Linked DNA regions of Homo sapiens: region 2 is linked to region 1. Evidence: fine-mapped expression QTL. A gene starts in region 1. The other region holds a variant in brackets. All regions are shown on one strand. Distances are from middle to middle.

Region 1 (8,263 bases):
AAAAAGTAAAAATTTAAAACACTATACACGTGGTGGAGAGATTAAACTGTTTTTTTCTTCTTCAGAAATACTTCTAAGGGGCCAGGCGTGGTGACTCATGCTTGTAATTCCAAGCACTTTGGGAGGCTGAGGCAGGTGGATCACCTGAAGCCAGGAGTTCAAGAGCAGCCTGGCCAACATGGCGAAACCCTGTCTCTACTAAAAATACAAAATTTAGCCAGGCATGGTGGCGGGAGCCTGTAATCTCAGCTCCTAGGGAGGCTGAGCCAGAAGAATCGCTTAAACCTGGAAGCTGGAGGTTGCAGTGAGCCAAGATCACACCACCACACTCCAGCCTGGGTGACAGAGCAAGACTCCATCTCAAAAAGAAAAAAAAGAAAAAAAGGAAATACTTCTAAGTTATGTGAGAGAGTACATACTGACATTTTCAATGGGTACAATAAAAATCATTTTGTGTTAAGAAGTCAGAGAGGGGAAGGCAGAATCTGGGGGTTGAACAGAAGGATTTAAGAAAGGGACTAGGCTTTACATAGTCCCCAGGCCCCATTCCCTGCTCCATGGCCAAAGGAGCCACAGTGAAGGGCCCAGCAATGGCAGAGTTGTGGCACGTGGCAGGTTAGAGCCCCTACCCTGGTCTCATGGCCCATGTTGGATTTCCACTGAGGCTGCCCACGTTGTGAAGGCCCATCTGCTCTGAGAGGCCCCATTGCCTACCTAGGCCTGGAGCCTTACCCCCAAAATGTTTTGGCCACCTAATGAGGAAACGTCCCCCATTCCCCAGGACTCCTGCTGCCCTGGGAACCTGTGGGAAGATGGGGGCCAGAAATAGCTGTATAAGTTTGCACAGGGCTCCCAAGCTGGGGACGTAGGAGAAGGGATGACAGTCACACAGTTCACATAGCCACCTTCACAACCTTTACCTCCTTCAAAGCTCACAGAAGTCCTGCTTGAAAGACAAACCCCCTTTCACAGAGACCCTGGTGCTCCAGGGGTAGATTATGTCCCACTCAGGAGGCAGAGTTGGCTCCAGCCTAACCCTCTCCTCCCACTTCTCCTGCACACTGGGCGGAGGCCTCTCACCTTCCCTTTTGTGGTGAGGAACCCGAGGCCCTTCCACAAAAGTTAAAGATGTTCCCAAGGTCAAGCCATTGCCATGGAGTGGAGTGAGGACCAGCTCTCCTGTTTCCAGCCTGGGCTCCCCAAGGATGTCCCACAAACCTCAGAGAAGGCATAGTCTTAGTGCACCAGGACAGGAGGGTAGAAACTTCCAAAAGGGCTCGCTTTTCCAGCATGGTACCCTGGGAGCCCTGGCCAGGCCTAACTGAGGTGGTAACCTCACTTGAGGAGGAGGCCTGACCCAGATGCAGCCATGTTTCCCAAAGCTCACAGGGTGGCCTGCTGGGGGCCAAGAGGGCCTGGGCAGCTGTGGTCCGCCTCTGGAGAGGCTAGAGGCAGGTGGCAGGGGCAGCAGGATGCCGGTGGCAAGGCAAGGCCTTCAGGAGCTTGTGGCCACTGATCAACCTCAGAGTTGGGGAGAAGTCGAGCCTCTCCCAGTCCCTGGGACTCCTCCTTCTGGGGGCAGGCCCATTGGTCCTGTCAACAGAGGCTGTTTTATGGTTTAGGGTGAAAGATTGGCCCATCTGGTCAAACTCTTTAGGGCACAGTCCTGCTTCTTCCAGGAGCCTCCCCTGACTGTTCCTCTCAGCAACCCCTGCCCCAGTTCTAGGAGGCTGTACCCCACATCCACCTGGACTCTTTCTCCTAAGTCACTGGGTCTGGTCTCCCACACCAGATAGAGAATTTCCCACGAGGAGGCCTGTGACCCTCCTCCCCCAGCCTCGTACTGGGCATTGCCCTGAGCAGCTCTGCTTCTGGATGAGGAGTCCCTGTGCCTGCTGTCCGGGGGGCAGGGGCAGTGGAAGGCTTGACAGGTGGCCTTGGGGCAGACTTCCTCCTCTGAGACACTGGAGGTTTTCTTTCCTTTTTTTTTTTTTTTTTTTTTTTTGCCTCCCTTTTCAGAGATTTCTCCTTCCCAGGCTGAAGTCAGGGCACCATAAACAGGAGTGATAAGGCCTTGGGCCTTCAACTTGAACTTTGCAGCTGCCATTTTATGACTCTGATAACTCCTGTCACCCCGCCCCCCCACCCCGCCGTCACACCGAGTCCGGCTAGAGCAGGTTTGCCCCATTCCATGAGGGAGCGATTGGTAGCTGGTGGGGAGGAGGGAGAATCAGGGAGGGAAATAGGGACCCCTCACTCCAGCCTGCCCTCACCCAGTCCTGGTTGAGTCCCTTCTCCTCTCTCTGTGGACCCAGCCCCTGCACTGGGCTGTAAGAAACATGGGGATGTAAGAGACCCCAGCCCCTGACCTTATAGGATGGCCAGAATAGCCCAGCCTGGGAGGTGGGTAGGGCTGAAGGGTGGGGTTAGAGGGGGAAGGGTTGAGTTGGCTGGAGCAATCAGGGAAGGCTGTCTGGAGGAGGAGATAGAGTTGGGCACTAAACGAATAAGATGTGGAAAGACAGGGGGAGGGTAGGCATTGGAGGGAGGAGACAGATTTGGGCTGTCTCAGGAAGTGTGAAGTAGAAGTGGCCTGGTGTGAAAGGAGACCTCTCTGAATCCACTCTGCCCCTGGGCTCAGAAGCTTCTCGGGATGGAGGAATGGGGTGACAACAGTGGTCCCAAGATCCCCGGTTCATCCAAGAAGAGTTTGAGTGGCTTGAACCTGGGGTTGGGAGGGCCAGATGGTGGTTGGAGAGGCCTGAAGGCTTCATGCAAGTTGTGCCAGAGCTGTGGCCTCTGGGACAGAGCTTGGTAAGATTTTGAGTGCTCAGGAGGTGGGTCTCATGGCTGTCATGGGTGGAGGTGAGGCTCCTGCCAATTGTCAGAGGTCCGCTCCTAGGACAGGCAATGAGCTTCCCATTCCCAGGGTGCTCAAGACATCCGCTAGATGGAAACACAGAGATACCTGCTCTGGTGGAGGTGATGGTAAGGGAAGTGACCATGGGAGAGAATGAACTAGATAATCAAGATTCCTCACCCTCCCCCAGCCAACTTGGAGTGGGCATTTAAGGCCCTGCCTAAGCAGCAACTCTAGATTACTCAAAGTCTGGGGTAGGGAGAAAATCAACCTTTGTCTAGGTCTAACTGGTGGGAGACAGATGTGGCTCTTGTGTCTCTGGACCTCGCTTTGCCCATCTGTAAAATGGGCTTCAGTAGACTCAATGAGTGCTGAGGTCTCCCCTGTTCTAGAGTGAGATGATCCATGCATCTCCTGCCTCAATCAGCATCTGCCTCCCAGCCCAGGTAAGCCATCCACAGGAACACATATCACACCCACACATGGGGCACACGAGTACACATGTATCAAGGGCATACACATACCCACGTTGAGAGGAAGCAGAAGTGGGAGGAAGAGGGAGGCCACTGCTTGTTGGCATTGGCTCCCTGCTCAGCTCTCTCCATGTACAGGCCTGGCCCCTCCTGTTAACCACCACCCTTAGCCCCTCACTGCCCACCAGCTTCCACCTTGGGGTCTGGTACCTTTTTGCTTTGCTCAGTGGGAGGGCACACGGAGGGATGTGCCTGTCACTCACCTGATCCCAAGAACCCCTTCTCAAGTCCTGGGGCCCCCAGCACTGGTTCTGATGCTGACAGCCCACAGGCACCTCCAGACGGTCACAGCACACAAGAACGGCCCCTCACATCCTCCCTCTCACCTACGGTGTACCAAACCTTCCATCTCAATCGGCCGCAGTACCTGACTCTGCACCCACTGGCCGCCCCACCCCGCTGCGCACCCACAACCACGACAAGGAAGGCAAGTCTGGGGCCCACTCTTCCCCGCTGCCCCTCCACTGATGCTGTGCCTGCTCCGGGCTGCGCTGGGAGGGACTGGGCACGACCAATATCCCAGCCCTCGCGTCTAGGTTCGGTCTGGAGCGGTGGGAGGAGGCGAGTCGAGATGCTTGATGTCCCCTATTCCTCTTACACAGACACGCGCACAGACGGCCCGGCTCCCGCCATCCCCCACCTCCCCCGCCCTCCGCAACCCCCAGGCTGCCGGGACTCTGGGCGGCCGGGCGAACACTCACCGCCGGCCCAAGGGCCCAGGCGAGGGCGCCTGCCAGCACGCATAGCCAGCGGGCGGGCAGCGGACTTGGCGGGCGCATGGTCTGCCCTGAGCCCGCGGCGGGCGGCCCCGCGCGGGCAAAGAGCTGGCGGGCGGCGCACCAGGCGGGCGATGGCCGGGAGCCTGGCAGAGTGGCGCTGGCGCTGTGGCCCCAGAGCTAAGAGGCGCAGCTCAGGGCTGGGGGCGGGCCCCGGGGGCTCGTCTGACGGGCGGCGGATCTAGCCAATGGATGGGTGGAGGCGGGGCCGCCGCGCAGGTATGGGGCGGGGCTGGGGAGCCCCTGCCAGTGAGGAAGCTCTGCTCTCTCTTTGCCAATCCCACACCTTGGTCTTCCGTCGTGAGACATTTATAGGCCTTCGCCCCTCCGGGCTCATCACCCGGGAATCTCGAGACCCGAACACATTCCATCCTTCCATGCTTAGCTCACGACCTTCGCAAGCTCCCACCTCTGTATCCACCCTCAGCCCCATCCCAGGGCGCTCCTCATGTCTACCCTCGGAGCCACCTCCTCCAGGAGGCCTCCCCGCCAGCCTCCCCATTTCCCACCTGTGCGTCTCCGAGGGTTCGTGCGCGCAAATCCGATTACGAGACAGGAAGTGCCACTTATCTTCCCAGGCTGCGAGCTGGGGCCCAGCAAGTGTCCAGGCGCTGACAGAGATCGGGTTGTTTGATCAATTTTCAACAACCCCAATTCATCCTTCGCGCCGAAGAAGCCAGGCGAGAGGAAGCGAGGGCTCGAAAGAGGCCCGACTCTGGGTTCCTTGGTGTTCCCTGCTCCCGGGTGACCTGGTGGGGCGCGCTCAGCACCTGTTGGGTGCCCTGGCCCTTCAAGCCTCGGGAGACCTGCTCCAGGGAGGATGAGGTGTCCGCACCCTCGCGGGTCTCGTCCAGGGCACCTCCCCAGGGAGGCTGGGCTGAAGTGCCAGCGCCCTCGCGTGGGGAGCGAGGTCTGCTCCCAGCCCGCAGGCCGACTCCGCAGCTGACCTAAAACGATCCACAGACGTCGTCCTCCTCCTGCATTCCCTATTTTACAGCTGGGGATACTGGGGTCCAGAGAGGGGCCAGGACCCTGGCCGCCTGCCTTTGGTGCTGAGCTTCCAAGGGGCGGCTGCTCGGCCGCTGGGTGACACCGGGTCAGCCCCTTTTCTCGTTTATTCGTCCCTGGCATGGGGAGCGGGGTCACCAGCTCTGCGCCCTGGGAGCGCGTCTTCTTGTGGACCAAGCGCAGGTGGCTGCTAGCCCTCTTTCTACGGGCTCGAGCCTGCACAATCGAGGCTGGAGATGTGGTCGCGGCGGCAGGATAGAGTGGCTGGCGGAGCCGTGTGACAGAAGGAGAGGCGGAGTTCAGTGGAGAGGCGGAGAGGGCAGCGGGTCCCAGAGCCCTGAGCAGAATGTGCGGCTACCTGAAGGAGGTCCCGCGCTAGGCTTTGGCTGAACAGCAGGCGCGCAGGAGCTCCCTGAGGACCCACCAGGGCTTCCCTCCCTACAGAGAGGGAACGTTGGGATGCTGCCATGGGGTGGGCTTGAGGGGAGTGGGGGAAAGCCGGGAAGGGATGAGTGCCCTGGCCCTTTCTTCAGGGCGTACTTACACTTTCTTTCCACTCTCTCTTCTTTCTCTTCTTTCTTCCTCCCTTCCAGCATTCCATCCCCTGCACTTGCTCTTTTTCCCTTTCCTCCCTCTCCTCCTTCCCTTCATTAAAGGGAACCTCGCCACCATGGAGCCCCTCCCTCCTTTCTTCCATGCACATTTATTAATCTCTTTCTGTGTGCCAGGCCCTGTGCTGTGCACTGGGGGCACAGAGGTGGATGGGCAGCATCCCCTTGCCATGAGGGGAACTTGGGGAGCTACTGTACTCCCTGCAATTTCTACCTCCTTCCCGATATAATCAGTGAGGCTGGACACAGGCCTTTCCTTAGATTTGGGAGCTGTGGAGATGCCTCTGTCCTAGCCTTTCTTGGGTTTGTACTCGATCTCCCAATGGCGGGAGTGTTTGAATCATCCTCAGCCATCTCCTCAGCTATCCACACCCCTGACGGCTGCTGTTAGCTCAGAAATCAGGGGTCTTTGTCTCTCCTTATGACCCTGTGTACCCCGTCTCGGGTCTCAGTTCCCTGGCAGGACAGTGGAATTGTGTCTTTTTCCTGGGAAGTTACTTGTGCTGGCATGGTGTCCTAGGAGCCCTAGATGTGAAGAGCAAACCTGTGGGTTTGGGGTGTCATGAATCCTCAGCCCTCACTCCTCAACACATACATACACACACAGCACCTAGCCAGCTGCAGGATGCTGAAATCCTATCATTAATGTGTCATGCCCCCAGGGTTGTTGAAGTTCTCCTGCTCTCCTGGAGGACAAGGTTCTTGGACACTTGAGGGTATATGATGGGTGTGAGGATTGGAGAGGCAGACCTCACTTTGCCATGTGACCCACCAGTGAATGGCTGGTGGGCAGGGTGGGGAGGGAGGGAGAGGGACTGGCTACCAGTGGGGATGGGTTGCCTTCCCCTGGCTCTGGAGGGGGGCCCACACTACCCTTCCTCTCCTCTGTTGGAGGGCTGGATGGCCAGGTTGGAGGCAGTGAGTGGCTGGGAAGGCATCTGATGCCTTTGCAGGCCTTGCTCCCCGGAAGGGAGTAGGTGAATCAGAAATAATTGTTTCCTTGCAGATTCTTCGGAATAAACATCACTTCTTTGTTCTTTCAGAATTGTTCTCCTGGGGGATCCACCCTTCCTTACCTATCAAAGGGCACAAAACATATTCAGAAATGAAAAGAGCAGAAAGAAAATAGCAAAACCAAACAAAAACCTAAAAAATTCAACCAACATTAAATGTGACTGTGTTTCAACTAATTGCTCCCGAATGTCCTGTCCTGTGTTCTGAAGCACTGGGGGGAAGGGGGTCAACCGTGGGCCCACTCTTGGGGAGTCCTGTAGAATCTGCTGAGGAAGCCATCCTTTTGTGCACCCAGTTGATCTGGGAAGGCTTCTTGGAGGAAGAGGGATGTCAGAAGCAGAGGGGGGGCCGACGGACTACCTGAGGGAGTGGGAAGCCTGTGGTCCCAATCTCCCCACCCTGTCCAAAGCCTAAGCCCCTCTGGAGTCTGCCTTGCCTTCCCAGTCCAGGCTTGAGGAGGAGAGCCATAGTCGCCTCCTACTCTCTGTTCCCCCATGTCCTTCTTGCATGGATTCCTCCCTGGGGGGGTCTGTTCTGAAGTCTCCCCTCTGGGATCCCTAAAACCTGTCCCTAGTCTCTAGCACCATCTCATATCCCTTCTGGATGTCAGAATCACATGGGTGCCAAGGACACGGGAGGTGGCGGGAAAGAGAGAGAAGTGGAGTCACTTGCCATCCCCCGTGACAACAGGCATGGCACAAAGAGAATCTGCAGTTACTCATTCTGAGCCTGCCTGGCTTCCTGCCTGTCTCATCCATGCGCTGTGTGCCGCCCTCGCCTCCTCTCAGAATCGTGCACTCACTGCCTTCAAGGCTTCCAGCTCAGGGGCTCCATGGTGGTGAGGTTCTGTGGTGGAGTGGGAAGGGGGCTGGGGGGGCCACAGAGTGGCCTTGACCTGTACGCTGGAGGCCAGGCTAGGAGATGGTGAGGAAACCACCTGGCTGGGGGAGTCACTGCTCTAGGATTCCCCTGCCAGAGCCACCCACGTTGCTGTCTGGATGCAGGCAACATTTGCTTTCTCCGGGCTTCTGAGTTGAAGGGACCTACACTTTTGGTCTTTATCCATAGAGCGGGGCTGGTAGCTCTGGCAACATGGAGTGATCACCACCTCCCCAGGGTGCACCTTCTTTTGGGGCCAGTTCTTCCTGTGAGAAGATGCACCTTAACTCCAGGCTGTAATTTGGTGGAGGGCAGGAGAGGCCTGGGCAGGCATTTAAAGAAGAAATATTCCCTTCCTCCCTTCCATAACAGCATGCAGTGAATATCATTCATTCATCCTTCACGTCTCAACACCCGCACTCATCTGGGGATTGGGGACGTGACTGTGTCTTAGACATGGGCTGTCCTCTGCAGGGAAGCCTAGCACTGCTTGGGTGTGGGATTGTGGGGGATCTTCTGTTGGTGCTACACCTGCATCTAGGAAGAAAACCAAGTTCACGGGAGAGCAGGTGATGGAGAAAG
Region 2 (8,322 bases), 25 kb before region 1:
TCACCCATAATCCTCAAAATGGATCCTGGCGATGGTCCACACCATGGTGAATGTGCTGGGTACCCCTGTCAGGCCCAGGGAGAGTGAAAGAGCAGAGAGGGCACAGGAAGCAGGGGTAGAGGGCATGAGGGAGAGATTTTGGAGAAAAGCAGGGAGAGGGAGGGAGAGAGAAAAGGGTGGGTTGTCAGTCTGCTGTCTTTGGTTGCATAGGTTGTTCACCACGGAGGGATGCTCCACTGAGGGGGTGAAGCTGTATGCCTGAAGGGCTGTGTCTACCTAGACGGACATTCTCTTTCTAATTGTGACAGAGGCCCTTTATAGATTAGCAGTGGCCCTGTGTATTTCGGGAACTAAAGGGAAATGGAAAGATGTTCACAAAATCTGTCCCACAGGTCAGCCCTAGGTGCAGCTGCAACCTGAGGGACTTGTCCTGGGATCAGACATTTTGAGGACTTTCTTGACCCTTGGCTGATATCCTTGCAGGCAGGACCTGCAGCTAAGCAAGACGTAGGACTGCAAGCTGGGTTGGCACCCTCCCCCTAGGGAGTTCTCCAGGCCTTGCCCCCTCTGTCCCCAGCCTGGAAGCCCTCCCTGGTACCATACCCCAGCCGATGAGTATGTACCCCCAGAAGTACTTCCGCTCAGAGAAGAAGGAGACGGCAAGCAGGGTGTACAGGTAGAGGCCCTCCACCAGCAGCCAGAAGAAGTTAGCCATGACACAATATTGGAAAAAGACCATGGCTGCCTTACAGCCCACCTGCAGGGGGAGGAGAAAAGACGGGGTTCACTGGGGCTGTCAAGGGTCCTTGACTGCCCACACTCGTGTCTGGGGGGACAAACACAGTTGCAGTGCAGCCAACTTAATCTCTTTGTTGTTTTGCATTATCCCCTTAAAAATGTACTCATTGGTTTTCCCATTTTCCCTAATTTTAGATCCTCTGATACTTCGGGATAAACTGGTGATTTTAATTATCCATCCATCAATTCATCTATTCACCTTCCCATCTATATATCTACCCATCTGCCCATTCAATCATCTACCCACCTATCCATGTATCCATTTATTTACCCACTCACCCACTAGACATTCACTATCAACTCACTCATTTATCCATTTTTTATCCATGTGTCCATCCATCATCTATCATCTTCCCATCTATCAATCCATCCACCCACACACCTATCTCTCCATTCTTCTACCAACCCACTCAGTCATCTACCCATCCATTCATCTCTGCACCCACCCATCAATCCACTTGTGCATCCACCCACATATCTACCTACCTGCCCCTCTGCCTATCATCTGTCCAATCTTCCTTACTTAACCCATTTATCCTGCTGCCTACTTAGCCATCCACCAACCTGCCCATCCACACTCCCACCCCACCCACTCATTCATCTAATGCCAATTTGTATTGAAGGTAGCTGGAAGGTATGAGGGAGAATTCTTGCTTGAGTTTCAAGAGTCTGCTCAATGTGGGGGAGTGGAGGGCTGTGGACTGTGGAGTGGGGCCCAGATGGAAGTGTGGAGGGAGACTGGGACTGAGAAGAGGGTGGAAGAGGGGGAAGTAGAAATGAAGAAGAAGAGAAGAGGGGAGGGGTGGCCATTCCTCCTGGGGTTCAGAGGACCGAGTGGAAGAATGGGTTTCTTAGGCAGACGAGGACCATGAAGGAGTTAGGGAGACCCATGAGTAGAGCAATCACAGGGCTCTGGGTGGCCCACTTGGCATGACTGGAAGGTATTCTGGGCCTTCTGTCCCCTCCCAGAAAGTCCCCCATTTCAGATCAAGCCTAGATGTCTGTCAGCCAGGGCTTAAAGCCACCCTCCACCAGGAAACTGTCTGGCTTCCACTTCCCCCTGTACCCAAAACATTGGTTCCCACCCTTCCTTCCTGTACCCTTGGTTTGCGACATCCTCAGAGAGAAGCCTCCCCCTGCCCCCACCACTCCCTTTGGTTGGAAAGTCCTTCCTCAGGTCTCGCTTCAGTCCCTCCAGTTACAGGAGTTCTTGCCTCCCCATCTTCCTCCCATTTGCTTTTGGAGAATAACTCTTTTTTTTTTTTTTTTTTTTGAGATGGAGTCTTGCTCTGTCACCTAGGCTGGAGTGCAATGGCATGATCTCGGCTCATTGCAACCTCTGCCTCCTTGGTTCAAACGATTATTCTGCCTCAGCCTTCTGAGTAGCTGGGATTACAGGTGCTGACCACCACACTCAGCTAATTTTTTTTATTTTTGTATTTTTAGTAGAGACTGGGTTTCACCATGTTGGTCAGGCTGGTCTTGAACTCCTGACCTCATGATCCGCCCAACTCAGCCTCCAGAAGTGCTGGGATTACAGGCGTGAGCCATAATCCGCGTCTGGCCATAACTCAGCTCTTTACCAGGACAGTTATCTGTGCTTCTTCCTAGTCTTAGAAAAGCTTCGCAGTAATGAATTGGGAAGCCAGTCTCCATAATTATCCGTAACATGTGCACAGGAGGCAGCAGGTTCCTCCACAGGTCCTGTGGCTCACAATGCTCATGTCTGACTTGGCCTCACAGCTCCTGGGACAGAACCTCTGAGAAGCTCTGGGAATGGCCAAAGTGGGTCCCCTAGGTTTTCTCTCCCCCTTGTTGAAATGCCTGAGATTCCAGTATGATCATTTCACTCTTTGGGGAGAAGGTACTGCTGACCCCTGATATAATGCACTGCCTCTGGGGTCATGCATGAAGCAATGAGTTACTGACCACAAGGAATGAGTGGGGGCTGGGGCTGATCTCAAGCTCTCTGTCAAAGCTTGGGGCACTCAGAGAGGGTCCCTAAGAATCCCTTGGAGATGGCCCCCTTAGTGACTGGCAATGAATTCCTTAGATGATCCCTTTACCTCTCTTCCCTAGGAAGGCCCAGAACCAGCCTGCTGTCAGGATCAGAACAAAAGAGGAGGACTGCATATGTATGGACCCACTCCAGATGGCACGGGGACGGGGGGAGTAGGAAAAGTGGCATGGTGAGCAGAGCCCTGGCTATGCAGGTGGCAGATGGCAGAGTTGGAAGGAATCTTGGAATTCCTTGCACAGATGGGGAAACTGAGGCTGTAAGTTCCCCAAGGCCACATAGGAAGTTAGCAACAGGTGGGACAGGTGCTCTGGGCTGTGGCCATGAAGTGTCCCATTTCCCATCTGCTTTTCTCACTGGCGGCGGCAGGTCTGTGAGCACCCAGATGGGTGAGCAACATCTCCTGTTGCCGGAGGGGAGTGTGATTTGAGTACTGCCAGGTGGGGTTGGGTGGGGGTTAGGCTATCCTTGGATTGAGGGGTGGGGTGGGAGGGAAGAGGGAGGAGGGAGAGGGAGAAGCAGGGGGAGAAGAGGAGATTACAGTGGTTAAAGATAACGGCGAGACTGAGGGAGGTGGGCCAGGGCCAGGATCCTCACCGAGCCCTCGGAGCACTGGTCCGACTCCCCGCTGTCGAAGAGGGCCAAGTCTTTGATGAAGACAGCGGCAGCCCTCAGGATGAAGGATATGAAGAGGTGCATGTGGATGTAGTTCCGCGTGCAGTGGAGCTTCCTGTGTGGGGTGGGCAGATCTGGGAGGCCAAAGGGGCCTTGGATCCCCACCCCAGCCAATGCTGTCCTATGTGCTGAGCAAGGGTGGGGCAGGGGAGCATGTGTCCTCCAGAGGGCAGGCCCCGCCTCAAAGGGGATCCCATCCTGAAATACGAGCCCCACCCCCAGGTACCCCATCCACCTGTGCAACTGGGCTCCCAAGGGCCTCAACCTCGTGTGTGGCCCCAGAAGCCTCATTCCTGTGTGCAGGCCCCACTCTCTGGTGCCCTGTCCCCAGGTGCAGGGCCATCCTAGGGGAGACTAGGCTGCAACACATGGAAGAGCTCAGCCACCTGCCTTCTCCAGGGGAAGCTGGCCTGGCAGGAGCTGGGGAGTATGTGCTGCTGGGGGGCAACAGTGGAGGGGTCGGGGCACGCCTGGGCCACGCTGGGCTCCACTGTGGGAGGGACACTTGCCAGGTTTGCTTTGAGGCCTGTGACTTGGGCTGGGCCTCACCTGAACAGGCTCAGGATAGCTGTGGCGACCAGAAGGGTGGCGAGGGACAGGCCGTAGCCAATGGTGTAGCCGGTCTTCACAGAACCGTAGAACATGGTCTGCTGCTGTTGGAGGGACAGGGAGAGGCTCTTGGGTGGTGGGGTGGGAGGCTCATCTAGGGGGTATTGGCAGGGGTGGGGTGCCCTACACACTCTGCCTGCCCAACCCTGCCTCAGCAAATGAGGAGGCTGAGGTCTGGGGCTCCCAAGAGCAGCTGAGCCCCTGACCCCTAACGCCCTGGTTTCTACA[G/C]ACAGGGCAGGACTGTGTCTTAGGGTGGGGTGGGGGTTGAATGTACTTCCTGTCTTTGCTTCTTTACGAGGGACAAGTTGGTGAGGGAGAGAATGAAGACCTTGCACGTCCCTTTTGTTAATTTCATGTCTCCAGCCATGTGCCCGGCTTCCCTTCTGTGCCAGCTCTGAGCTGGGCACCCTAGGGGTGGGGTCTGCTTGCCCTTCAGACACCCCTCGAGGCCCTGTCTCTGTATAGGGAGGAGAGGTATGCGAGGTTGCGGGATGTCGAAGAAGACACTGGCACTAGTATGTCCCATTTTGGGCCCTTGGGAGTTGGGGTCGGTGGGATGAGGGCAGTCTGGCCTTTCCGGTGGAGGAGGGCAAAGCTAGGCCCCGAGGGTGTCTCGCTTGGTCCCCTCTCCTGATGCCCTCCCCATGGACACAGGTGCAGTGCAGCACGACAGCCACTAGGCAAGCCACTCCTTCCTGTCAGCCTCCCACGCTTGCCTGAGGAGAGGCAAGTGGTTAAGGGGGAATGAGGGCCTATAGCTCCAGTGGGCTTCAAAGGCCTCTGAAGAAATTGCTGTCCTCGGGGGTGGGTGGAGTGAAAGCCCGGTCTGAGAAGGGCGCCTGAGGGTGGGGCAGATGCCATCGCAGACAGACACACACACATGCATTTGCACCCCAAAGCAGTGAGGGGCTCCTAGCTGAGGACTCCAGCCTCCCCATCAATGTCCTTACCAGGCTCCCCAGTCTTTACAGAGACCATGTTTTAACTGCTCCGGGGAAGATATCTGTCCTGGGACTGAGAATGACAGGCTCTGTCCCTGTTCCTGACTGGCTATTTGGTAGCCAAGTCTGGTTCCTTCCAGGACCTGCAGCAACTCGGTTTCCCCTCTGGATGGGATGGGGTGCTGGTGTCTGCCTGCCCTGCCAACTCCCGGGCTGAAGTGAGGTTCCCATGAGGCAGTAGGGTGGCCCAGCCTGGGGGAGCTGCTTCAGCTTTTGCTGCTCTGGGGGCCCCTCCTGTGGGAAAGCCTCCTCCCATACCCTGTCAGGGGGAGCCAAGGGTTGGGACCCCAGAAAGGCAGGCCTGGAGGAGGCTAGAGGAGGGCAGACTCCAGGAGTCCTGTTCCCACACAGACAGCAACCACACCCCTCGGTGGGAGAGATCAAAGTCTCCTAGGTGGGCCCCGGCGCTCTGCAGGTGAGGTGGGGGTGCCCTGAGACCCACCTCATCCAAACTCGCTGCCTTGTCATCCAAACCACAGGCAATGGGGTACGGGCCAGGCTCCAGGTGCGTCCAGCCTTCGTCGGTGCAGCTGCGGCTTACATTGCGGCCTGGGTGGAGGGCAGGGGCAAGGACAAAGGCTGAGGCCGGGAGCATGGGGACCTGGCTGTCTCTGCTTGGAACAAGGCAGAGAATTCAGCCCTACTCCCACCAACCCTGGTGCTGTCAGGTTCCAGCTGCCCTGACCCAGTTACCCAGGGCACCGTGGGGGCACCTGGGGCAGGGAGAAGCCTCTTCAGGGCTCCCGCACCGATGATAGAATCAGAGCAGACATTCTTGGGCTCAGCCCTTTTGTTATGGTCTGAACCTGACCCCAAGTACAACATACACTCTTATCCTTGTCACAGACCCTGCCTGGATCCTTGTCACAGAATGATTCCTGACCCTTGCCGTGAGCAGAATGCTGACCCTTGTCACAAGGCCACGGCTGGGGGAAGGGGCCCAGGCCTGCCCGGTCCTCCTCAGTCAGCCTGCCTGGGCCTGTGGGGCTGGGTTTCTTCTCACACCTGGAAGGGCTTAGATGTGCTGCTGGAGGGGGAGCAGGAGTGTGGGGGTGAGGAGGGGTGGGGTTGGGGAACCTGTGCAGGCAAAGGCATGTGAGGGGGAATCAGGCAGCACAGCATGGCAGGAGCTTGGGGCTGAAACAAGCAGAGGCTGAGGCTCCAGGCAAGCTGCACTGTCCACTGTCCTCAGAGGCTTGAAGCTGCAGCAAAGAGACAGGACCGCTTAGGGGGTATGTGAGGTGAGGGGTACCACTGAGGCTCCCCACTCTCCAGCACTGGGGAGGTGTCCTCTCCCCAGAGAGGGAGAGGATGGGTTGAATAGAAATTAGATGAGCCAGAGAAGAATCACGCTTCCCCATCTCAGTACCCGTTCATCACCACCACCACCACCGCCATAGTCACCATGAGCAGCATCAGCAGCATCACTGTTGTCAGCCTCATCACAATGACAGGTTTTGAGTACTTTTCAAATGTCAGTGCTGGTCAAGCACTTTAGGCACATCCTGTTTAATTTCCTCAATCATCCAGTGAGGAAGTTAACTCCATTTCACAGTTAAGAAGTGGAGGCCCCAAGAGGTTGGTTACTTGCCCAAGGCTACATAGAGAGGACAGGATAGAGCTGATTTGGTCTCCAGAGTCTTCCCAGGTAAGCTTGGTTCTCACCTGCATGGAGGTGACCTGAGGACTTATTTCGGTGACCAGATAAAGAGCTGCAGGAGGGTCAAGCTGTTCTATGAGCTCAGGAAGTGTCACTGGGCACGTGTGTTTATTTCCAAACTTTGCCGTATGCCCGGAATATACCAGGTGATTCCATATTCACCATTTCTGTAAATCCTCCTGGCAACCCTTGGAAAGAGGTCTTGTCACCCTACTTCATGGATGAAGAACTGAGGGACAGCTAGGGGTGGGGATGGGACAGCCAGGAAAGAGCAGCCGTGGGCTGGGTCTATTTCCACCGCATGGCCCAGGGAGGGCAGGATGGATTTGGTTGAGGAGGGGGCATTGGACTGGGCCAGTTTCCTGCCTTGGCATCCCTTTTTCTGCCCTGGGCTCCCAACCTCACTGTTGCAAGAGGCTCCTAGGACAGCAGAAAAGCCTTCAGCTGTCCTTCTGCGCCCCTCTCAGCTTCCCATCATTGCAGCCAGAGGTGGGCCTGGCCCAGAGCCTTCAGCCCAGCCCCTCATCAAAGGGTAGGCTCTTCCTCAGCCCCAGTTCCAGGGAGCTAACTGCAGGCTCTGAGGCCCTGGATCCCACCCACAATCTGATTCATTTGAGGACTTCCCCCTACAAGGCTCAGGCAGGTAGAAAACAGGGTTAAGGGCTGGGTGCGGTGGCTCATGCCTGTAATCCCAGCAGTTTGGTAGGCCAAGGCAGGCAGATCACGAGGTCAGAGTTCAAGATCAGCCTGGCCAACATAGTGAAACCCTGTCTTTACTAAAAATACAAAAATTATCTGGGAGTGGTGGCACACACCTGTAGTCCCAGCTACTCAGGAGGCTGAGGCAGGAGAATCGCTTGAACCCAGGAGGTGGAGGTTGCAGTGAGCCGAGATCACACCACTGCACTCCCACCTGGGTGACAGAGTAAAACTCCGACTCAGGGAAAAAAAAAAGAGGATTAAGGCCAAAATCACCCAGCCTTGAAGCTGGGACACTGGAGCTTTGGGCTCCCTACTCACCAGAGGGACCGGGGCTTGAGGAGGCCAGGCCCAATGACATGGCAAGCATCTGGTATCATGAATTATGCCAGCAAACCTGGGTGACTCTGGCATGTACACAGCAGCTTCACATGCCGTGTGTGTGTGTGTGTGTGTGTGTGTGTGTGTGTGTAGTGGCGGAGGTGTTAGGGTAAACATTAATGTGTTAGGGCTAGGAATTGGTAGTTTTTGTTATCCCATCAAAAAATGGGGATCCCAAGGCTAAGAGAGGTTAAGTCATTTGCCCATGGTCACACAGCAAGGGAGCAGCAGGTGGGATGCAGACCAAGGTCTGCCTGACTCCAGATCTTTCTGGGCTCCCAGCAGCGGCCAAAGGGATACTCTGTTTTCTGGAGCCCTGGCTGCCATAGATGGTGAAGGAGAGGAGGGGAGGGGACAATGGGTCATCTCTGGGGCCAGGTGGTCTCTTTGAAGAGCCCTGGGATTGTGGTCAAGGCCTCATAGCAAGCTGCTCTCAAGGATATCAAAATGGCAGTCACCATGGGATCCCAAGAAGCAGCCAA

What was found. PIP is the estimated chance that this variant, and not a neighbour inherited with it, causes the effect.
Region 2: its variant is fine-mapped to the expression of VIPR1 in whole blood (TOPMed, PIP above 0.99).

The regions. Positions count from the first base shown.
Region 1 is chr3:42,498,645-42,506,907 of GRCh38, reverse strand. VIPR1 (vasoactive intestinal peptide receptor 1) reads right to left here and starts at 4,265. Exons shown (of 13, transcript NM_004624.4): 1 at 4,095-4,265. The coding sequence starts at 4,172. RefSeq lists silencers at 4,007-4,506, 4,567-4,666 and an enhancer at 5,194-5,767.
Region 2 is chr3:42,523,214-42,531,535 of GRCh38, reverse strand. VIPR1 (vasoactive intestinal peptide receptor 1) reads right to left here. Exons shown (of 13, transcript NM_004624.4): 4 at 5,543-5,649; 5 at 4,040-4,143; 6 at 3,413-3,545; 7 at 604-757; 8 at 5-65. VIPR1-AS1 (VIPR1 antisense RNA 1) reads left to right here. Exons shown (of 3, transcript NR_046654.1): 3 at 578-640. Among named protein-coding and RNA genes, the nearest start is that of VIPR1-AS1, 5.2 kb to the left of the region's middle. RefSeq lists a silencer at 6,722-6,892. The variant G/C (reference allele first, on the strand shown) is at 4,328.